Linked DNA regions of Homo sapiens. The protein of the gene in region 3 interacts with the protein of the main gene of each other region in a pairwise test. Each region holds a gene or a part of one and is shown on either strand. Other genes may lie near its edges.

Evidence for each region.
Region 1: the proteins of TMBIM6 (region 3) and SOAT2 interact in binary tests that used the Homo sapiens proteins (3 or more experiments, as listed by UniProt).
Region 2: the proteins of TMBIM6 (region 3) and CD300LG interact in binary tests that used the Homo sapiens proteins (3 or more experiments, as listed by UniProt).

What each region holds. Positions count from the first base shown.
Region 1 is NC_000012.12:53,098,964-53,106,627, reverse strand, and holds the start of SOAT2 (sterol O-acyltransferase 2), read right to left. Parts: upstream 3,143-7,664; 5' UTR 3,051-3,142; coding exon 2,969-3,050; intron 2,478-2,968; coding exon 2,422-2,477; intron 1,522-2,421; coding exon 1,385-1,521; intron 1,068-1,384; coding exon 1,008-1,067; intron 722-1,007; coding exon 614-721; intron 1-613. Other genes in the region: IGFBP6 (insulin-like growth factor-binding protein 6 precursor), read right to left, coding at 4,461-4,583, 5,468-5,587, 5,771-5,916. UniProt on the Homo sapiens protein: Catalyzes the formation of fatty acid-cholesterol esters, which are less soluble in membranes than cholesterol. Plays a role in lipoprotein assembly and dietary cholesterol absorption.
Region 2 is NC_000017.11:43,843,257-43,850,317, reverse strand, and holds the start of CD300LG (CMRF35-like molecule 9 isoform 1 precursor), read right to left. Parts: upstream 3,143-7,061; 5' UTR 3,102-3,142; coding exon 3,059-3,101; intron 1,761-3,058; coding exon 1,425-1,760; intron 569-1,424; exon of another isoform or gene 17-568; intron 1-16. UniProt on the Homo sapiens protein: Receptor which may mediate L-selectin-dependent lymphocyte rollings. Binds SELL in a calcium dependent manner. Binds lymphocyte.
Region 3 is NC_000012.12:49,736,632-49,744,641, forward strand, and holds the start of TMBIM6 (bax inhibitor 1), read left to right. Parts: upstream 1-4,925; 5' UTR 4,926-4,980; exon of another isoform or gene 4,981-5,137; intron 5,138-5,237; exon of another isoform or gene 5,238-5,505; coding exon of another isoform or gene 5,506-5,649; intron 5,650-5,806; exon of another isoform or gene 5,807-5,976; intron 5,977-6,785; exon of another isoform or gene 6,786-6,934; intron 6,935-7,781; exon of another isoform or gene 7,782-7,911; intron 7,912-8,010. UniProt on the Homo sapiens protein: Endoplasmic reticulum (ER)-resident protein that confers cellular protection as an anti-apoptotic protein by limiting multiple stress-inducing pathways surrounding the endoplasmic reticulum and mitochondria.

The sequences.
Region 1 (7,664 bases), 3.4 Mb from region 3:
ATCTGCATCTCGTTATTGGGCCATGAGAAATAGCAGCCCCAACCCTCAGTTTGGTCTGGGAATAGTGGGAGGTATGAAAATACAGACCCCCAGGGGTATACAGCTCTCTGAGGCTCATCCTCACAGTTGGATGGGGTGCTCTGTGGGGGAAATGACCCACCCAGGCACTTGGTTACATGTCTGTCTTCCCCACAAGACTGGGAGTGCCTCACAGACAGGAGTGGGGTCTGCCCCCCTCATTTCTCTGGCCACTAGGACTGGTACTCGGGAGGTGCTCAATGGAGGTTACTTGAATAGAACTGACTTGGAAAGGAGTGTGTATGGGTGTGCATGTGTGCACACACACACACATCTGCCTCAGGGCAAGGTGTCATTGAGAAGCATTTGAGAGTGGCCGGCCCTGGGAGGACAGACAAAGGGCCAACCAAGGCTGGGGAAGGAAGGGATCCTAGAGAGTGTTTCAGGTGGAAAGGTTGTTGGGAGCAATGTTGGTACATGTCCAATAACCAAAGGGGGAACCTGTGTCCTCTTGCCCCAAGGGCAGGTGGGGCACTGAGGACCCAGAGGGTCTGATCAGATAGGTGTGCCTGTCCCAGGTGGGAAGGGGACCTACCTGCCCTCATCAATGAAGTCGATGGCCAGGGTGCTGATGATGAAGACACACAGGCCAGCGATGAACATGTGGTAGATGGTGCGGAAATGCTGCACCTCCATCAGCTCACTAGAGGGACAGGGGCCCGAAAGTCAGTGTGGGAGGGTCCTCAGGGTTGTGTGAACTAGCTCAGACACTGTACACATGAGGCATGGGGCCTAGCGATCCAGAACTTCCAGCTAAAGGCCTTTCTTCCACAACCATGCCTAGGGCAAATAGGGGACCTGCACCTTAGAAACCCTTTCCAAGTCCTCTCCACAAACCACCTAGAGGCTGGGGATGAGAAATGAGGTACCTTGACCCCTAGCCAAAGCCCTTTCTTTTCCTCCCATTACTTGTCATCACCCCGACTTACTCAAGCAGGGACTTGCGGATGATGAAAACTTTCTGTTTCCCCAGGGATGGCTCCTGGGTCCTGAATTGAGATGTTTGTTCAGGGTCAGGAAAAAGTAAATGGGCAGAGGGCAGGGCCATGCAGAAGGTCAATACTTGGGAGCCAAGGGGAGTGGTAGGGAAAGGTCAGGGCTAGGGCCAGAGGGCAGGACCGGGTAGAAGGTCAGGGCCAGGGCAGAGCGAGGCCCAGTAGATGGAGGTCAGTGTTAGGAAGACAAGGGGGGAAGAGGGAAGGCTGGAGTCACGGTCCTGATAAAGCTGGCAAGGGCACATAACGTGATGTTTCTAGCTCATGATCCTTGCTACAGAGGAGCCCGCGCAGCCATTCCCCAGACTCACCTGCTCAAGGAACCTGGGGGAGGTGGGGGCAGAGGTTTGTCTTGTGATGGGTAGGATTGTATAGCCTCCCGCATGGCCCGATCCAGCAGCTCCCTCAGTTGTCCCTGCGCTTGCTCCAGCAATTGTGCCTTCACAGCCTACGGGACAAAGCCAGGGTAGAGCCCACTGTCCCTCCAGTCAGCCATCCTTTCATTCACCAGACATTCACTGAATTTCTGTCTATGCCAGGCACAGTGCTTTTTTTAAAAAAAAAAACAACCTGGGGGGTCAGCAGGGATGGGGGTTCAGTGGTGGCAGGCCTGCGGGGGGAAGGGCAGGCATTGGTGGGGTGGTGATGGGTCTGCTGGTGGGGTAGGACCCCGCAGTGCTAAGTGCTGTGGTAAAAAGATGAACAAGCCATGATCCCTGCCCAGAGTTGATCTCCTTCTGGCTTCCTGGGGCAGCAGCGAGGATCAGGGAGTGACAGCAGGAGCAAGGCTTCCCCTCCCTGGGTCTGAATTCCAGCCTGGTCACCTCCGATTGTCACTCCTCACCCCTGGCCTCCAGCCGCACTAGCAGGAAGACTCTATCTACTGGCTGACTTTTGGTGACCTTTGGGACCTGTGCTTCAAACCCCTCCATCTCCATCCTTAATTCGAATCCGATCTTTGCACTCAGGAACAAGTCATCAGGCTGGGCACCGTGGCTCACACCTGTAATCCCAGCACTTTGGGAGGCCGAGGCGGGTAGATCACTTGAGGTCAGGAGTTCAAGACCAGCCTGGCCAATATGGTGAAACCCCGTCTCTACTAAAAATATAAAAAAAAAATTAGCCACACCTGGTGGCACTCATCTGTAGTTCAGCTACTCGCTTGAACCTGGGAGGCAGAGGTTGCAGTGAGCCGAGATTGTGCCAATGCACTCCAGCCTGAGCAACAGAGCGAGACTTTGTTTCAAAAAAAAAAAAAAAAAAAAGTCATCTTTATCACCAAGCCTCACTCCTGCTTCCTGCTACCAAGGATCTGTCCACTTGACCTCTGACCTCTGACATCCCTCACCTCCATGTGTCGGGTCCATTGTACCAAGTCCGGGGCTCTGTGCGTCTCAGTGTTTCCTGTGAGGAGGGATCAAAGGCACAGTCAACAGGAGGAATTGGGGTTCTGCAGACCCAGAGGCATCCTGTGGTCAGGAAATGCTTTGTGTGCTCAGCAGCTGCCCTCACCCCAACCAGCCAATATCTAGTATCATGGTTGGGGCTACTAGAAGGGGAAGTTGCTGTTGCCAGTGGTGAGGAGGCCATAGGCAAGCAGGGGGCCTGGTGACATTACTGGGAACAGGGCACTCAGGGAATGGGAAGCTACTCCATTCACTATCTGGGGCTAAACAGTCAGAAGGATAAGGCCAGGCCACAGCTCTGACATAGCTCTTTTCTGTTCCATCTTCCAGCTGGGTGGCTCTGGGCTGAGGCCAGGGTCTACCTTCCTTGGCCTCTCTGGACAGCAGGAAGGATTGGCATCAGGCAGTTGGAGCCTTCTCTCCATAGCGCATCTCTCCCCGCCTCCCCCCCACTTGCCTGTGCCTTCTGCACCCCCGAGGGCGGCTCACCATCTCCACAGGGTTGGCGCTCCCGCTCCCCTCCCAGCCCTTCTGTCCTCTGCAGACGCAGACGGGCCCCGCCTGGCTCCATGGTGCGGTCTCCAGCGGGCAGCAGGCAGCCCTTGCCCGTGTTGCCTCCTTCCTTCGCAGTGTGGCCTGCCCTGTAGAGCTCTTGTCCCACTCAGCTCAGGTGACAGCTCCAAAGACTAAAGTCCTTTCAGGAGGAGGGGGCCTCTGGGAGTGCGATAGGTTATCTGATCTGGAGGCAGAGCTTCTCAGATTCAGACCTCACTCTGCTGTCTGTCGCAGGGATCGCCACATCCCCCTAACACCCCAACCACCATCCAGATGCCCAGCTCCAAGGGTGCTATCCACCCCGCCACACACACACAGGAATAGTGGCTGGGTACATCTTGGGGAGGGGAACTTTGCCTCTCAGAAGCTTGTCACCTAGCATGGCTGGCCTTCCAGTCTCTCTCCCAGCAGGCTGAAGGTCAGGGAGGAGTCAGAAATGTCTTCATGTATCAGTGCGTTCAGCTCGCTTTCACCACAAGGTGTGTGATTGACACATGTGGTAATATTCTGATGGGGTTGGCACTGTGCTACTCACGGAACTGGGGCCCCTCCAGGAAAGGCTGAGTGTCAGGGCCCCTGAACTGACAGGGCCGCTTCCTGACACCTGCTTGGGTGAGCATGTAGGCAGAAAGGAGACTAAACAAACACGTATTCAGCACCTAGGGAATACCAGGTATTGTCACATATGGAAGAACCGGATGCAAACCTCCCTCTGTCATTTACCAGCTATATAATTTCAGGCAAGTGACCCCAAATTTTAAGCCAGTTTCCTCCTCTGAAAAATAGGGGTAAAAATCCCTATATCACAAGGTTATCGTAAGCTCAAAATGAGGTTGTCCAGGTAAAATCACATGGTTCAGGGCCATGGGATGAGCTCATATATTAGTAATAATTTCCTTCTTTTTTTAGTAGGAAGTAACAGAAGGGTATGTGCTTTGAGAGTTCCTCTTTGCTGGGTTCCTGCTGGGATTAACTATTAATCCTTCCCCTCCCTTTGTGTCCAAAGATCAGTGTTAGAAACAAGGTCACAACTTCAGATTAAGGCCATGATCTCAGTGTCTCCCCTTCCCACTCCCAACTCCTGGTGGGCAGCTCTGTGAGGCTTGATGGCTTGAAGCTTCTGCCTGGCTGTCACAGGAAGGACTAAAGGTATCCACAGGAAAGGAGAAATGCTGTGAGTGAGCTGTAGTGGGGTAAAGAGAGGGCCAGGGATTCCAGAATTGTGAGAGGCAGACACAGAGACACAAGCCAGCGACCCCAAGCACAGCTTTATTGACACCCCAGCCAACACCAACACTCTTTCCAACCAGCGGTGAGGGGCCCATGGGGCGGGGCCTGAAGGTGGATTGAGGGCCTCGGTTTTTTGTTGAGTGATGACAGCTCCATGTTCCTTCCAGTGGCCCTGCAGCCCCTCTATCCCCCAGCTTTAGCCGCTACTCCCAGTGGGGCAGGAGGAGCTTCCATTGCCATCTGGAGACCCTGGCAGGGACTTGCCCATCCGATCCACACACCAGCAGGGACCTCGGCGCTGCCCCTGGGAGGAGCGGCACTGGAGAGAGAGGCACACAGGTCAGGAGTGAGGCCAGAGGCTTCCAGCAGGAGAATGAGAGGGGACATCTGAGTCTGAGGATGTAAAAACACCTGAGCGTCTCCTCGGGGGTTCCCTCTCTTTTTTTTTTTTTTTTTTTTTTTTTTGAGATGGAGTCTCGCTCTGTCGCCCTGGCTGGAATGCATTGGCATGATCTCTGCTCACTGCAACCTCCACCTCCCAGGTTCAAGCAATTCTCTTGCCTCAGCCTCCTGAGTAGCTGGGATTACAGGTGCATGCCACCACATCTGGCTAATTTTTGTAATTTTTAAAACAGATGGGGTTTCACCAGGTTGTTCAGGCTGATCTTGAACTCCTGACCTCGTGATCCACCAGCCTTGGCCTCCCAAAGTGCTGGGATTACAGGCATGAGACACCGCACCCGGCCCAGTGTTCCCTCTCTTTAGTTCCCCCTCTTCAACCAATAAATTGTGTGCATTCTGCTAGCCTGGAACAGTAGTTTTCAAAGTGACGTTCCCAAATCCGGATCACGAGGGAACATGTTAGAAATGCATATTGTCAGGCCCCACCCCACACCTCCTGAATCAGGAAGGCTGCCGGTGGGGCTCAGCTATCTGTGTGGCATAAGCCCTCCGGAGGATTCTGATGCCTCAAGTTCAAGAGCCACTGAGTTAGGGCATTCCTTAAGTGGGTTTTCTCTCACAGTGTGTGGTTGATTATTCTCTAAGTTTGTTTAATAAATTATATTCTCTATGTTCTCCTAAAGTTGGAAGATCCTTAAAGATGGGGCAGTGTCTTATTTATGCAGCTTTGTAAGCAGCACCGCCCCCACTCCCTGGCAGGAGCCTTCTGCTGGAGCAGGAGGAGAAGAAAAATAGTCTCACCTGCCGCTTCCGGTAGAAGCCTCGATGGTCACAATTGGGCACGTAGAGTGTTTGAGCCCCTCGGTAGACCTCAGTCTGGAGTTGCTGCAGCACTGAGTCCAGATGTCTACGGCATGGGCCCTGGGGAAGGGAGAGTAGGCAGCTTAGAACCGCTCCAGCCCAGCTCCCCATTCCAACCTTCTGGCCCACCAGGCAAGCACCCAGGACAGACAATGGAGACGTCTCCAAGCCCAAGGGAGCAGTCTCAGATGGAAGTCTCCAGGGCTTCCCACCCCTCCTGCTCCCTACCAGCTCCAAACGCACCATCTCAGTGTCTTGGACACCCGCAGAATTGGGCTGGGAGGGCGTGGTAGAGGTGCCTGGATTCCTCTGTTGGTCTCTGCGGTTCACATCCTGTGGGCGGGCAGTGCCTGCTTGGGGTTTACTCTCCTTAGGATTCTCCTCTGCAACTGGAGGAGGAATAGGAGAAGGAGAGGTCAGAAATCAGGCAGAGCCATGTGGAGAAGGGCCTTGCCCACATCACCTGCTGAAGTAAGGAAGGGAGGGCCTTATGCCCCGCTGTTGCATGATGCTGGCCCTAGTTTCTTTCTCTGACAAATAGTTATATTACTTTTCCTGACAATATTCCCCAGTATTTCCCATACTGATTTTTAAGGCTTATAAAGGAGATGAATTTTGGAAAGCAAAAATGGAAAATGAGGATGGGTGCAATGGCTCACGCCTGTAATCCCAGAACTTTGAGAAGCAGAGGTGGGAGGATTGCTCGAGCCCAGGAGTTTGAGACCAGCCTGGGCAACATAATGAGAACCTCATCTCTACAAATAATTTATAAAATTACCGAGGTGTGGTGGCGTGCACCTGCAGTCCCAGCTACTTGAGAGGCTGAGGCAGGAGGACTGCTTGAGCCCCAGAAGTCAAGACTGCAGTGAGCCATGATTGTGCTACTGCACTTCAGCCTGGACAACCGAGTGAGACCCTGTCTCAAAAATAAATAAATTATTGGCTGGGCGCAGTGGCTCATGCCTGTCATCCCAGCACTTTGGGAGGCCAAGGTGGGCAGATCACTTGAGGTCAGGCGTTCGAGACCAGCCTGGCCAACATGGTGAAACCCCGTCTCCACTAAAAATACAAAAATTAGCCTGGCATGGTATCAGGCTCCTGTAGTCCCAGCTACTCCGGAGGCTGAGACAGGAGAATCGCTTGAACTCGGGGGGGCGGAGGTTGCAGTGAGACGCTGGACCACTGTACTCCAGCCTGGGCAACAGAGTGAGACTTTGTCTCAAAATAAATAAATACTTTTTAAAATTAATTAATTACTTAATTAAAAAAAATTAACTACTTAATTTTAAAAAATTAATTAATTACTTAATTTTAAAAAATTAACTAATTACTTAATTTTAAAAAATTAACTAATTTAAAAATCAATCAATTAATTACAATAAATAATAAAATAAATGAAAAAATGGAGAACAAATTCAAAGGACTATTTGGGGCTTTGGGCTTTGGGTGAAAAGACCTGGCTGTTCCACCAGAGGCCAGAAGGGGGCGCACGAAGCCGGAGAGCTGGGGCAGAAGAGCAACGGATGTAGGAGGGGGGCCAACAGGGACCCAAAAGGAATGTGTGTCCCTGCTGTGACCTTGCTATGACTCAACCCACCCCTCCCAGGCCTGAGATGTGGTTACTTCTGGGGCACTGCAGTGGGAACCTCTCCCTTCTGGTACCCTGTGACCCAGGCCAGCTCAACCCCAGTGGTCCCAGGAGCACATGGATTCAACCCTTAACCAAGATAGGCTGAGGGCAGATTAAGAAGGTGCAAGGAATGAGGGGCTTCCAACCTGCAGGTTGCTCCTGGCTCTGGAGAAAGTTTCCGGAGGGTCCGGGGAGAGCTCAGGACTGGGAAGGGGTGAGGAAATAAGTCAGGGACAGGAAAAGGCAGAAAGGGGAGCATGTACTGACTGCTTGGAATTTGCCTAACATCTAATCAGATATCAGAACCCCTGAAGGGATCCTCTTCCTCTGTGCCTAAAGACAAGCTCCCAGCTAACTACCACTCACAACCCAGGAGACATTTCCCCTGCAATCCTGAGTCTGATCCTTCTTCCTCAGGATGCCCACCCCTCCCCAGACCTTCTCCTTCATTCCCTACATTTAGCACCCAACCATTTAGTTCCAAACTGCCTCCTCTCATCCACCCAG
Region 2 (7,061 bases), on a different chromosome or scaffold from region 3:
ACTGTTAACTTTTCAGGAGTTGGTGAGATCGTGTTAAACTGTCGATGGCTGGAAATTGGCCATGGGAATTGGACCACAGAAATGGACACCACAGAAATTGGAAAACACCACAAAATGACAGCATCCCCAGCCTGTTAAACATTTACCAGCACATCACTGTCGTCAGTCTTCTTCATTTTCAACATCCCAACTGCCATCAGAGAGAGGCCAATAGAGTCCGATATAGGACGATAATATAGCAATACACATGTCATACACAAATAAAGAATTACAAATGAGGGTAAACCTAAAACACAAGCGAACTTGATCATAACTGGTAGAAATGACATGTGAACACTGATAAGAATTGGAAGAGATAAGAGAATCTTGTAAATAATGAAGAACAGATTCAATGTGGTTCGATGCTGCTGCTATTTGGCAAGTTTAACTTTATTTCCTCAAATTAAAGATCCATGGATAAAGGAATAAAAAAAAAATAGGGGCTATGGTGGTAGGGATGGGCCTGGGATTGGGATAGGTCCCAGCTATGGGGCTAGGAGAGGAATAAAGCAGACATCAAAGCTGGAAACGACTTGTGTTTGAATCCCAGTTCCATCACTTCCTGCTGTGAGATCTTGGGCAAATCACTTAGTCTCTTGGAGCCTCAGTCCCTCATCCGTGAAATGGGGATACAAAGATGTACCTCGCCCACACTGGCCAGCAGACCAAGGCTCCCACTCCCCTGGGCCCTCTCTGGCTTCTTTCTCCTTAGCTCAGCAGGTCCACTTGGGGTTCTGGGCTCCCAGAGAGGTGCTTTATCCCCTACCCAGGCCCCATAGCTCCAGCCCCGGCCCCCTAGTGTCCCTGCATTTAACGATCCCTCCTTCAGGCATCCTACCCAGAGGCTGGTTCCCAGGCACTCTAGCACCTGTGGCTGGACTTCAATATCTGGGGAGGTGGAGGCCAGGAGGGGAGAGTTGAGGGCACAAGCAGGGCGAGGCCAGCATGTCCAGGGTGATGCTGTGGGCTGGGTCTGGAATGCAGCAATGGTTGGCCCAGCCTCGGGAGGCCTCAGGAATATCTCTGACACCAGGCGAGGAGTCTTCTTTATCCCCTGATATGTCTATCTTGTACCCAGCCTATGGAAATCTCCCTCCAGCACACCTGGGCAGAAAGGAAAGGCGCCGAGCCCAGCCCTGGACAGATCTGGGTCCGGTCCTGCTCTGACATCTACTACTGGTGTGACCTCGGGCAGCAAGAGTGAGACAATGGCCAAGACTCAGGCGGCTCCTTCTGTGCCCCAAGCCTTGCTCGGTGCTTGACCTGCATGATCTCCCTGAGGACTCAGTGCCCATAATGTTGGTACCAGGATTATGCCCCACCACCCCTCCCTCTTCCCTCTGCAGCTCCTGTCCCCAGCCTGGGGAAGGAGAGATATCTGTTACCTGGAAAGACGAACAGAGAGATCAGTAAAGACTCATCGGGGCCCCGTTTTTCGACCCCACACCAGTACTCCCCAGCGTCTTGCAGGGTGAGGTTCCACAGGGTCACAATGAGCGAGAGCTCCTGGCGGCTGTCACGGATGGACACCCTGCCCTTCATTGTCTCCTGGCCTTCTTCTTCTGCATAGATGGTGCCAGAGCAGCGAGAGAAGAGGATCCCACCCTTCCTGCACCAGTACTTCCGGTGGTCCCTCAGCTCTTCCCTGTAGGTGCACTGCAGGGACACAGTGTCCCCTTCGAACCCGCTGATTTCCTCTGGGCCCTCCAGGGCTTCATAACCTAAAATCAGAGCAGGAGTGGAGGTTGGAAAAACCAGGCTCCATGTACCAAGGTCAAGGCCAGAGCTTCCATTTTAGGAGGAAGAAGGAAGGCTTTTCTCAGTCATCCCTTCTGGGGACAGCCTTGGAAGAGCCATTACTAACCTCCCACGCTGGGGGAACTTGGGGCAGGGCTGTTGCTGTTTCCCTAACCCTGGCCCATTGAGGAATTGGGGTGCAGGGGTGGCGTTCTAGATTCAGATAGAATCTGACAGCCAGATAGCCAGCAGGGTTTCTGAGTGTTTTGTTTTGTTTTGTTTGTTTGTTTGTTTGTTTTTGAGATGGAGTCTCACTTTGCCGCCCAGGCTGGAGTGCAGTGGCCCGATGTCTGCTCACTGAAACTTCTGCCTCCCGGGTTCAGGTGATTCTCCTGCCTCAGCCTCCTGAGTACCTGGGACTACAGCCACGTGCTGCCATGCCCGGCTAATTTTTTGTATTTTTAGTAGAGACGGGGTTTCACCGTGTTAGCCAGGATGGTCTTGATCTCCTGACCTTGTGATCCGTCCGCCTCAGCCTCCCAAAGAGCTTGGATTACAGGCGTGAGCCACCGTGCCTGGTTTTGTTTTGTTTTTAGACAGGATCTCACTCTGTTGCCCAGGCTGGAGGGCAATGGTGCTCATGGCTCACTGTAGCCTTGACCTCTGGGGCTCAAGCGATCCTCCCACCTTAGCCTCCCACTAGCTAGGACTACAAGTGTGCACCACCATGCCTGGCTAATTTTGTTTGTTTGTTTGTTTGTTTGTTTGTAGAGATGGGGTCTCACTATTGCCAACTGAACAACTGACATCAGTTGTAGGATTTATCCTGATTTTAAGTGTTAGAAGGTAAAGAAAAAGAAAGCAAAAGAATTGATGAAACGTGATAATTCTTCATCTTTCAGGGTTGTGGGGAGAGGCATAGCCGAAATTCAACAAATATTTGCTGAGTTTAACAGGGCAACCAGATGGGGTGTCTTGTCCGCCTCCAGGCTTGGCACAGGGTAGAAAAATTAAGATTAGAGAGGCAAAGCAACTCTCACAGCCACATTGCCATGAGGGGAAACCCACAGGTCTGGAGAAAACCTGGCTCTAGGTTCCAGAAACAGCAAGTGCGGCCCCGGCGCCACCCCCACCTCCCCCCACCCCCAGCCCGCCCCGCTCCCCTAGGGCTGAGGAGGCTGAGGATAGGTGGGGTGGGGCTATCAGTCAGTCAAGAGGTCCTTTCCCTGCAGACCACAAGGGTGAGCCCCACATCCCTCCCGAGACCCTCTCCCCATCTCACCTGGGAGCAGCAGGCAACCCCATAGCAGGACCAGAAGCCGCATTCTGGGCGCTGGACACCGTGGGAGCAGACGCTGGGAACTGTGAGCTCCTCTTCAGTCACACGGGTCTTTAACTTTCTCTAGTCGCGTGAAACCAGGCCAAGGAAGCGAGGGGAGGGGCGTGTGGGTCATCCCTCCGCAGGCCCAGCCGGGGAGGCGCCTCTGCCTTCCCTTTTCTGAGCGCCCACGCGTGCCTACCCCAGGGCTCACCTTCCAGGACTGAAAACCCACACCAGAGTTTCTCCTAAACTCGTGCCCCTTCAAGGGGGCCTTAACCTGTGGTCCGTGCGCCCTAAGGGGTCTGTAAGTCGAATTCGCATGGGAAAAAGTTACATATTGACTTTCATCAACTTCTAATATTTAGCTTTTCCTCTTATTCAGAGTGTACTGTTAGCAGTACCTGCAACTTTGTTACCAATTACAATCACAGACACTGGCACATCAAGTTGTGGATATCTCGAAACGTCGTGTATACCCCTCACTGCTTGGAAAACAATGAGTTCCTAGACCTGCCCCTAGAGCTGGTTATTTACAATAATGAAACGGCTATTATTATATTACACATTTATAAAGAGTTTTAAGAATCATCTCACCAGTATTAGTTTTCTTTCCAGCATATATATTTTATTTATATATTTACCCGCCATTATACTGAGAGAGGGGTCCATAAACTTCACCAGACTGCCATGTGGTCAGTGGGACAGAAAGAAGCTTGCCCCTGGGGCAAGGCCCCTGGCCCCTCCTCCGCCCTTGCCTTTTGGAGGACGCAGTACTGCCCTTGGCCACGGGGCGGCGGTGCAGACGGGGCTGAGCAAAGCTGTAGGGCTGAGCTGGACCGGATTCCCTGGTGCCTTGGGCCTACAGCGCTGCAAGATAGGTCTCCTCCACGCCTGCGGAGTTGTTTTGGCATTTGAAAAAGTGAATTGGTGGTTTCTCCATCGCAGACTTGAATCCTCCTTGAAAGGACCAAAACAAACATGTACACTACTGGGAGCTCTGACACACTGGCTTCAAAAATGACTTTTTTTTTGGTTTGGTTGCAAAGTTCATACAGGTTGTAAGCAAAATTTTACACAATACAGAACGTAAAAAGGAAAGAAAGAAAAAAGGGAGTGCTTCTTGTAATTCCCCTTCTGCTTTAGAAAAGCACCATTAATATTTTGGCATATATCCTTCCAAATGTTCAGTTGGAATTTTACTGACTTGTCAGGTTAATATCTGAAGCATTAACTCAGTGGTTCTGGGAGGGAAGATTGTGTGTGTGTGAGTCTAGTAACGTGGGGAGAAGTGTTTTAATTTCACAATGACTGCGAAGCACTGCTGCCATTTAGTGGGCAGGGCCAGCTGTTCACGGTGGGGAAAACTGTTACCATGATCTCAGCCCCTGACTCTCTTTTACATGTACAGACTACAAAAGGTGATCTGTTTTTGCAGTTTTAAAAAAACACAGATTAAAAAATATTTATGGCCCAGCATGGTGGCTCACGCCTGTCATCCCAGCACTTTGGGAGGCTGAGGCGGGTGGATCACCTGAAGTCGGGAGTTTGAGACCAGCCTGACCAACATGGAGAAACCCAGTCTCTACTAAAAATATAAAATTAGCCAGGCATGGTGGTGTATGCCTGTAATCCCAGCTACTCAGGGAGGCTGAGGCAGGAGAATCGCTTGAACCCAGAAGGTGGAGGTTGTGGTGAGCTGAGATCACACCATTGCACTCCAGCCTAGGCAACAAGAGTGAAATTCTATCTAAAAAAAGAAAAAAAAGTATTTGTTTATTTACTTATTTTTGAGACAGGTCTCACTCTTGTTGCCCAAACTGGAGTGCAGTGGCGCCATCACAGCTCACTGCAGCCTCAAACTCCCAGGCTGAAGTGATCCTCCCACCTCAGCCTCCCAAGTAGCTGGCACTACAGGCGTGCACCACTGTTGCCTGGCTAATTTTTTATTTTTAGTAGAGACAGGGTCTTGTTATGTTGTCAGGCTTTTCTCAAACTCCTGGCTTCATGCGATCCTCCCACGTCGGCCTCCCAAAGTGCTGGGATTACAGGCACGAGCCACCATGCCCGGCCTTAAAGTAATACTTATTCTAGCATTTGATAGCATATCTTTGCTCTTCTATTTATTTATTTTTGTCCTTACACAGAATAATTTCTGATCCTCTACATTTCTTAAATTCAGACTTATTTATTATATGCAAGGACGAGCATCTGACACTTCATTATGCTTTCTAGTGTCATGGGACCTGAGCACTGACAGATTGAAATATGTGTTATTTGGTTATAAATTGCTTTCCTTTTATTTTTTCTCCCTAGTATAGCTCAGGCACTATAGTGTGATTTTAAAGAAGTAAGTGCTTGTGAAGGCATATTATTTATGATTGTCATTTTAGGAGAGTAAGCGAGGTGTTATTAAATGTTTATTTATATAAAGAGCATGTTGAGTGGATCCCTACCCTCTTCCTGCATATTTGAAGGTCCTTCCCCTCCATTTCCCAGCCCCACACCTAGCCCAGGAGGCTGGCTCAAGAACTCCATTAGAAACAGATTCACCAGACTGGGAAGTGGAGCAAGGGCTGGGGAGAAGGGTGAAAGTGAGGTGCTGGCATGAGCCTCGCACCTAGTTCCACCTTAGGCCACACTCTGGGGTAGATGGGGCCAACAGACAGACCTCCGTGGTGGGCTGGGGATCTGAGAAGAGAGGATATTTTTGTCCTGCTTCCCACCAGAAGCATGGGGAGGTGCCCCACCATCACTGCACCTGGGAGAGGCAATGAGGCACAAGGGCTCCTGGACAGGTCACTGGGCTCGTGACAGCCTCATCACATCCTCAGGAAGGCCTCTGTGTGCCCAAGAGGTACAGTGGCAGGGATGAGGGGACTGAGCTGCTTGGTCTTCGATGGCCACCCTGGTCCAATTCCTCTCGGTTTGGACTTGGACTAAATCACTTCAGCTGCTCCAAGAGGGTCACTTGCTCCTCTTAGATCAAGGTTTCCCCAACCTCAGTACTGTTGACATTTTAAGTTAGATAATTCTTTGTTGTGGGAGACTGTCCTGTGAATTATAGGATGTTTAGCAGCATCTCCAGCTGTACCCCCTAGATGCCAGTAGTCCCTTCCCAGTTGTGATAATCAAAAATGTCTCCAGGCTGGGTGAGGTGGCTCATGCTTATAATCCCAGCACTTTGGGAGGCCAAGGTGAGTGGATCACTTGAGCCCAGGAGTTTGAGACCAGCCTGGGCAACATGACAAAACCCCGTCTCTGCAAAAAATACAGAAAATTAGCCAAGCATGGCAGTGTGCACCTGTGGTCCCAGCTACACACAGGCTGAGGTGACAGAATCACCTGAGCATGGGAGGTCGAGGCTGTAGTGAGTCGAGATCCCATCACTGCACGCCAGCCTGGGTGATGGGAGTGAGACCTTGTCTCAAAAAAAAAAAAAAAAAAAAAAAGGCCGGGCGCAGTGGCTCACGCCTGTAATCCCAGCACTTTGGGAGGCCGGGGTGGGCGGATCACAAGGTCAGGAGATCGAGACCATCCTGGCTAACACGGTGAAACCCCGTCTCTAAAAAAATAAAATACAAAAAAATTAGCTGGGCATGGTGGCGGGCACCTGTAGTCCCAGCTACTCGGGAGGCTGAGGCAGGAGAATGGCGTGAACCCGGGAGGTGGAGCTTGCAGTCAGCTGAGATCACGCCACTGCACTCCAGCCTGGGTGACAGAGCAAGACTCTGTCTCAAAAAAAAAAAAAAAAAAAAAGCCTCCAGGCATTGTCAAACATCCCACTGAGAGGCAAAAATACCCTGGGTTGAGAACTGCTGTCTTAGATGATGAATAACTGTGGAACAAATAAGTGCACTTTTGTGTAAGTTATGTTTATTGTTTATGTAGGTCAGGGTGTTCCATCTTTTGGCTTCCCTGGGCCAAGAAGAAGAATTGTCTTGGACCACACATAAAATACAGTAAC
Region 3 (8,010 bases):
ATATTAATAACACACTAATATAAAAGTAAAATTTAGCTTATCTGGTGTAAAAATCATAGAAAAAGCATTGTTAAATGTAAAATGGTATTTGGCTTTCTTTGGTTTAAAAACTAATAAAAATAGGTGCTAAAGAAAATTTCTCAGTAAAAAGGCACTAAGGACTAAGTCCACTGCCAAGGTCCCCACATTTAAAACAAAAGGTCAATTTCTTAAAAATTATATACTTGGTTTATCTTCCACTTTCCTTTCCCTCAAAAACTAAAAGTCTTTTAGCACATGTACCACCCCTAGAATTTCCGGTAAACCAGCACCAGCCTGAAGATCACGTTCTCATCAAAGGGTGGAAAGAAGAAAAACTCGAGCCAGCCTGGGAAGGACCCTACCTTGTGCTGCTAACCACCGAGACTGTTGTTTGTACAGTGGAAAGGGGATGGACTCACCACACCCAAGTCAAGAACCCCCTCCAGAGTCGTGGGCCATAGTCCCAGGGGAAAACCTTACCAAACTAAAGCTAAGAAAAATTTAACTTTTTCATCTATTCTATTACTCTTCCTTCTTTCCTCGCTCTATTGCTAACCGTCTAGTTATTAACATTACCAAGTCAATTTTGCCTCAAACTATTGCATTTAATGCTTGCCTTGTTATACCCTGTGGGGACTTGCCAAGTCAAAGACAGCTCTTTACTTCAGAAAAGTACTTCTGTCCCTTCTGACTCTCCTCAGATTGGGCATTAGTAAATTAGGACCATTTAATCTGGGGAAATTTCGATAAAGATTCCAGTGTCAACCAGGAGTCTTGCCCCACAATGTAGAGCTTTTATGCTGTAGTTGGTCCAACATTCTATGGACCACTAAAGAGCAAGGATGGACTGCCCTAACTGGTTTTTGTAATTTCCTAAAATCATACATTCATTTTACTAGAGGATCATAGAAGTTAAAGACTTAAAACAAACTTTAGCAGTTAAGACAGGATACCAAGATGCAAATGCCTGGTTAAAATGAATCAAATATTCCATCTGCACATTAAACAAAAGCAATTGTTATGCTTGTGCACATGGCAGGCCAGAGGCCCAGATTGTCCCCCTTCCACTAAGGTGGTCCTCCAGTTGACCAGGCATAGGTCTGCATGGTAGCTCTTTTCCAGGATTCTACAGCCTGGAGTAATAAGTCATGCCAAGCTCTCTCTGCTATATCCCGAAGTCCGGCACCCTGCGGGTCAGCCCCCAAGGGCTATCCAGCTTCCGTCTCTCAACACTAAGTTCACTTCATGTCTCCCTGGCATTCCTTGGAGACCTGAAAGGATGCAATGAGCTTAAGAATTTTCAAGAGCTTATCCATCAGTCAGCCCTTGTTCATCCCCGAGTGGATGTGTGGTGGTATTGTGGTGGACCTTTACTGAGCACTCTGCCGAATAACTGGAGTGGCACTTGTGCTTTGGTCCATTTGGCTATCCCTTTCACCCTGGCATTTCATCAACCAGAGGGAGAAAAAAATAAGACATCGTAAAGTGAGAGAAGCCCCTTATTGGTCTTCCGACTCTCACGTCCATTTAGACACAATTGGAGTCCCACAGGGAATACCAGATCAATTTAAAGCTTGGAATCAAATAGCGGCAGGATTTGAGTCAATATTTTGGTAGGTGACAGTTAATAAAAATGTAGATTGGATAAACTATATTATAACCAACAGCAACAAGCTTTTCATGAGTTAAAACTCATGTCGGCCCCAGCCCTGGGGCTACCTGACCTGACAAAACCCTTTACACTCTATGTATCAGAAAAAGAAAAAATGGCAGTTGGAGTTTTAACCCAGACTGTGGGGCCATGGCCAAGGCCAGTGGCCTATCTCTCAAAACAACTGGACGGGGTTTCCAAAGGCTGGCCCCCATGTCTAAGGGCCCTGGCAGCAATGGCCCTGTTAGCACAAGAAGCAGATAAACTAACCCTTAGGCAAAACCTGAATATAAAGGCCCCCCATGCTGTGGTAACTTTGATGAATACCAGAGGACATCATTGGCTAACAAATGCTAGATTAACCAAGTACCAAAGCTTGCTATGTGAAAATCCCCGCATAACCATTGAAGTTTACAACACCCTAAACCTTGCCACCTTGCTCCCAGTATCAGAGAGCCCAGTTGAACATAACTGTGTAGAGGTATTGGACTCAGTTTATTCTAGTGGGCCGAACCTCCAAGACCATCCTTGAACATCAGTAGACTGTGAGCTGTACATTGACAGGAGCAGCTTTGCCAACCCCTGCAAAGTGACTCTGAAAAAGACGACAAGCCCTGCTCCAGTCATATCCGGAAGCTGACTAATCCACACACGGCTGAAGCATGAGAAAACTCATCACGGGACTCATTTTCCTTAAAATTTGGACTTGTACAGTAAGGACTTCAACTGACCTTCCTCAGACTGAGGACTGTTCCCAGTGTATACATCAAGTCACTGAGGTAGGACAAAAAGTTGCTACAGTCTTATTATTTTATGGTTATTATAGGTGTACCGGGACTCTAAAAAGAACTTGTTTGTATAATGCTATTCTATACAAGGTATGTAGCCCAGGAAATGACCAACCTGATGTGTGTTATGACCCATCTGAGCCTCCCATGACCACAGTTTTTAAAATAAGATTAAGGACTGAGGACTGGTGGGGAGGACTCATAAATGATACGAGTAAAGTGTTAGCCAAAACAAAAGAAAAAGGGGTGCCCAAACAAGTCACCTTGAAGTTTGATGCCTGTGCTGTCATTAATAGCAATAAGTTAGGAAGGGGATGTGGCTCTTTTAGTTGGGAAAAAGGCTATATGACCGAAAATAAGTACATTTGTCATGAATGAGGACTGTGTGAAAATGAATGTGGATACTGGTCTTGTGTCATTTAGGCCACTTGGATAAAAAATGAAAAGGATCCAGTCCACCTTCAGAAAGGAAAAAATGGCTCTTCCTGTACTAAGGGACAATGTAACCCCTTAGAGCTAGTAATAACCAATCCCCTTGATCCTCGCTGGAAAAAAAGGGGAGCGTGTGACCTTAGGAATCGACAGGGCTGGACTGGATCGTCGAGTAAATATCTTAGTTCGAGGAGAAGTCTGTGGAAAATTTAACCTTACCAATTGCTGCCTGCACATAGATGATCAGAGGCAAGTAGTCGAAGATATAGTTAAAGACATGACGAAACTGGCACATGTGCCTGTACAAGTGTGACACGGATTTGACCCTGAAGCTATGTTTAAAAATGGTTCCCAGTGCTAGGAGGATTTAAAACTCTTATAATAAAAATTATAGTAGTAATAGCCTGCTTACTGATCCCTTATTTACTATCTGTACTCATTCAAATGGTAAAAGGTTTCATCACTACTCTAGTTCACCAGAATGCTTCAGCACAAGTGTACTACATAAATCACTATCGATCTGTCATGCAGGAAGACATAGGTAGTGAAGATGAAGGTGAGAACTCCCACTAATAAAATGAGTGAGAGTCTCAAAGTGGGGGAATAAGGGAGGAGACCACCCCTCATATTGTCTTATGCCCAATTTCTGCCTCCAAAGAAAGAAGTAGTAAAAACTAAAAGGCAGAAATGAAATCCACAAGCAGACAGCCAGGCACCACACCCTGGGCCTCGTAGTTAAAGATCGACCCCTGACCTAATCGGTTATGTTATCTATAGATTACAGACATTGTATAGAAAAGCACTGTGAAAATCCCTGTCCTGTTCTGATCTAATTACCGGTGCATGCTTGCTCAATCGATCACTACCCTCTCAAGCGGATCCCTTTAGAGTTGTGAGGCCTTAAAAGGGACAGGAATTGCTCACTCAGGGAGCTCAGCTCTTGAGACAGGAGTCTTGGCCGATGCTCCTGGCGGAATAAACCGCTTCCTGCTTTAACTCGGTGTCTGAGGGGTTTTGTCTGCGGCTTGTCCTGCTACACTACAGCAAAAATTAGGTTGTATTATAGAAAATTAACTTTTTTGGTTTTTTTGAGACGGGGTCTCGCTCTGTCTCCCAGGCTGGAGTGCAGTGGCACCATCTCGGCTCACTGCAACCTTCACCTCCAGGGTCAAGCAATTCTCCTGCCTCAGCCTCCCGAGTAGTTGGGATTACAGGCACACGCCACCACGCCCAGCTAATTTTTTAAATTTTTAATAGAGATGGGGTTTTACCATGTTAGCCAGGCTGGTCTCAAACTCCTGGCCTCAAGTGATCTGCCCACCTCAGCCTCCCAAAGTGCTGGGATTACAGACGTAAGCCACCACGCCCAGCCGAAAATTAACTTCTATTAATTGCATACCTGGGTTTGCCTACTGAGAATCATACCCTGGATATTTGTATTCTTTACTGAAAAGAACTGTTCTATCTTTCCAGAAAGTGGTTTCCTAAATTCTGGTTTTCCTCCTGGAATCCTGCTATTTCCTTCTCGCATACTCTAGAGAAATCGAAGTGTTTTCAAAGGTGCTCTGAAGCTTACGCTCCACTAGTTTCACAGTAAATCGCCCCTTGCGAGGGCGCTTTTTTTTTTTTTTTAATGTGTTCTCTGAATCGCTTTCCCCCTTTAACACTGCATGACAAGACTAAAGCCAGAATCCCAAGACTGCAGCGCTACCCCTTCACAAGCCGTCGGGCTGTCCCGGGCGGGGCCGGCCCATTTTCACTTTCTCCACTAGAGGCAGCAGCGCACCGTGACCCTGGCTTACTACGGTAAGAAAGCGGAGACCTTTTGCTTCGAGGCGGTTGGTGGCCAGTAGTCTTGATCGACAAGCTCAGGCCTCTGAACTAAGCAGCCGCTGTTTATGCACGTACAGCCAATGGAAAGGCAGGAGTGCGGCCAACGGCCAATGAGGACTGGTCTTAAGCGGACCACAGGGCGGGGTTTCCCTCGAGAGGCGAACGCCGGGTAAAAGATCGGGAGCGGAAGTGGGCGAGTCAGAGCACATCCGGTGTTAGAAGCGCTGGTAGGCCTTGGAGAGGCGGGTTAGGAAGGTACGTCTGAACCTAGTACTGGGCGAACTGGGAGTGAGAAATGGAAAGGGAGTTAGCAGTTACTGTCTGAGCAAGAGTGGCAGTAGCTTCCTTCTGCGGACAGATGGCACCCTGAAGGAACGAGGCCCTGCTCGGAGACCAGACTCGGGAAAACAGGGTGTGGAGGGAAGCTAGGGAACTAGTGCTGCGCGTGCGCAACAGTGCTGAAGCGGGGGTGGGGCGGAGGCGAGTCTGCGGGGGTTTTGGGGGGTGTCGAGGCCTCTATTCTGCCCCAGAGCGCTGGCGAAGGCCCCTTCTCAGCCCGCCTTTTCCTTTCTCCCGCTCCTTCTCCTCTACTAAGTGTAGACGCAGGGCCCCTTGGCCTAGCTTCGATCGTTCGAATTCAGAGCACGTCCTTCCGAGGTGAAGGAACGCGAAACTCCACCCATCCGATTGCTGTTCGGCTGCGGGCGGGTCCTTTGGTCGGGCTGACCCTGGGTGAGCGGCCCGGAGCCAAGACTCGAGGTAGGGCCTGGCGGGCGGGTGATGTCACACTCCTCTGTGACACGCGAGGCTCCTCAGTTACTTAGCCAACGGCAGAGGCGGGAAGTGAGAGGAGTCTGGGGCTGGGGCTGCCTTCCAGGCCCACGGGGCGGCCCCGCTCTTTTCGGATTGGTTACCTTTGGGCAGGTGAGGTGGCTTTGCTTTGCTTGGTCTTGAGGTTTTGTGGGCGTCTTTCTAAGTCTGCTCAGCAAGGGCGTCGTTGGGCAGTTTTTATCTTGGGCCTACTTGCTGGACCTGTGGTAACAAGTAGGCTTTGGTATCTTTGTATATTTACTGAGTGTAGAATTACTACCCGGTGCCAGCCCGGGCTGCTTGGGGTCATCAGCCTTTCATTGACCACCCCCACAACAAAAATCACTATGAACTTGAGACTGTGTTCTAGCAACTTGTGAATGTGTAACCCAGTAGAAGGGCTGACTGTGCTTGAAACAGACAAGGATTTTAAGGTCAAAGGTAAATAAATGGCAAATGGACTTTTCTAGTTACTTATTGATATTTATTTACAGTTTATCTTTTGTATGTGTGGTTTAAGAATTGAATTCTGGAAAGATACCGGAATTGCATAAACACATTTCTTATGACCTGCGTATACACACTTTTTTCTGTAATTATTGTATTTACACTCTTTGGTGTTTTCTTATTCTTTGTGTCTAATATTTTTGTTCTGGCCTAAAGAATATGTTGACATTTAGATTCTCTGCCGCCACTTTCCTCCAGTAGGGACAGAATAGTTGAACCCTTGAGAAATACAATCTGTACTTTTGATCCATAGTTTGCTTCTTCCGTTATTTATCTGGTTGTGGAAACATGGTTTAGTACCTTCCTCCTCTTTTTTTTTTTTTTTTTTTTTGAGGCAGAGTCTCACTGTCGCCCAGGCTAGAGTGCAGTGGCGCAGTCATGGCTCACTTGAACCTTGACCTCTCCTGGCTTAGGTGATCCACCCCAGCCTCCTGAGTAGCTAGGACCACAGGTGGACGTCACCAGCTCCAGCTAATTTTTGTATTTTTTGTGGAGATGGGGTATCACCATGTTGCCCAGGCTTACCAACTCCAGAACTCAAGCGATTTATTTATTTATTATTATTATTATGTTTTTTTTTTGAGACAGTCTCACTCCCTTACCCAAGCTGGAGTGCAGTGGTGCAATCTCGGCTCACTGCAACCTCCGCCTCCCTGGTGCATTCAATTCTCATGCCTCAGCCTCCTAAGCAGCTGAGATGACAGGCGCGCACCACCATGCCCAGCTAATTTTTGTATTTTTAGTAGAGACGGGCTTTTGCCAAGTTGTCCAGCCTGGTCTCGAACTCCACACCTCAAGCGATTCGCCCGCCTTGACCTCCCAAATTGCTAGGATTACAGGTGTAATCCTTTCCTAAAGAAAAAGAGTCATCTCTCCTGAAGAATAAGAAAAGGTAAAATTAATCTAGATACTTAGCATTTTCAAGTTATTTTCCCTGATTATAGATATAGTTCGCGCTCTTTATACAAATGCTGAAAATGCAGAAAAATGTCATAGGAATCAATGTATGTTTTGGGAGGGTTTTTTTGTTTTAAAGATTTGTTTTCACCTATGGCTGAAACTTTTGAAAGCTTATATAAATGAAAGCTTATTTTTCTACTGTAGGATGGAATAGTAAAAAGAGCACTAGACTATAGTGGTCAGAAGACCCCAAATCTGGTTCTGGCTCTGCTATTTAACTTTCTAATGTTGGTCAAATCAATACTAATGTTTGTTTTAGTACTTTACGTTGATTTCACACAGATTTTCTTATTGGCATTCAGTAGAGCAGGTATTGATCATCATCGTTATCTTACAGATGAGGAAGCTGAAATAACCTTAGGTAAAATGATTTTTCCTAGGTTATATAGTAGAAAGTGGCAGCACTTGTGACACCAAATCCTGTCCTCTTGCCACTATTACATTGCCTTTTTGAACTTAAAAAAGATGTATAAAATGGGCCTAATCTTTCCCTTTCCTTGTGGGTTGATGTGTGAGGATTGAAGGTGATACATATATAAAAGCACCTTAAAAGTTATAAATTTTATATAAATATAGTCAGGAGTATTAGTATAGAAGGTACTACTGCTGGCCTGACGAGTTTCATTTTATTTCGTAAACTGCCCAAGGGTATTAATTTTCTCTAGAGAAACCATTGAATATTCTGATGCTCTAACTTCTGATTTTTTTTCCTTTACTACTTTGACCTGGTTGTAGAATCTGGTAGAAATGTCTTCTACCACTCTGTTTTGTTCCCCCAGAGTTTCTAACCAAACTGCATGCAGCCCTTCGTAGTTTTTATACACATTTTGTTTTCCAAAGATGGTGTTCGAGACCAAGGAGAGAAAGGCTGTCTCCTTGACTTAAAGGTTACCTAAGTGACCCCTTGAGGTAGGTTCCACTCTGAGCCAGCTGGGGAATGTTGATTTGAGGTTACAGCACTCTTGATCTGATAATAGGGTCTAAATTTGCTCTAGAGACTTTGTAGTG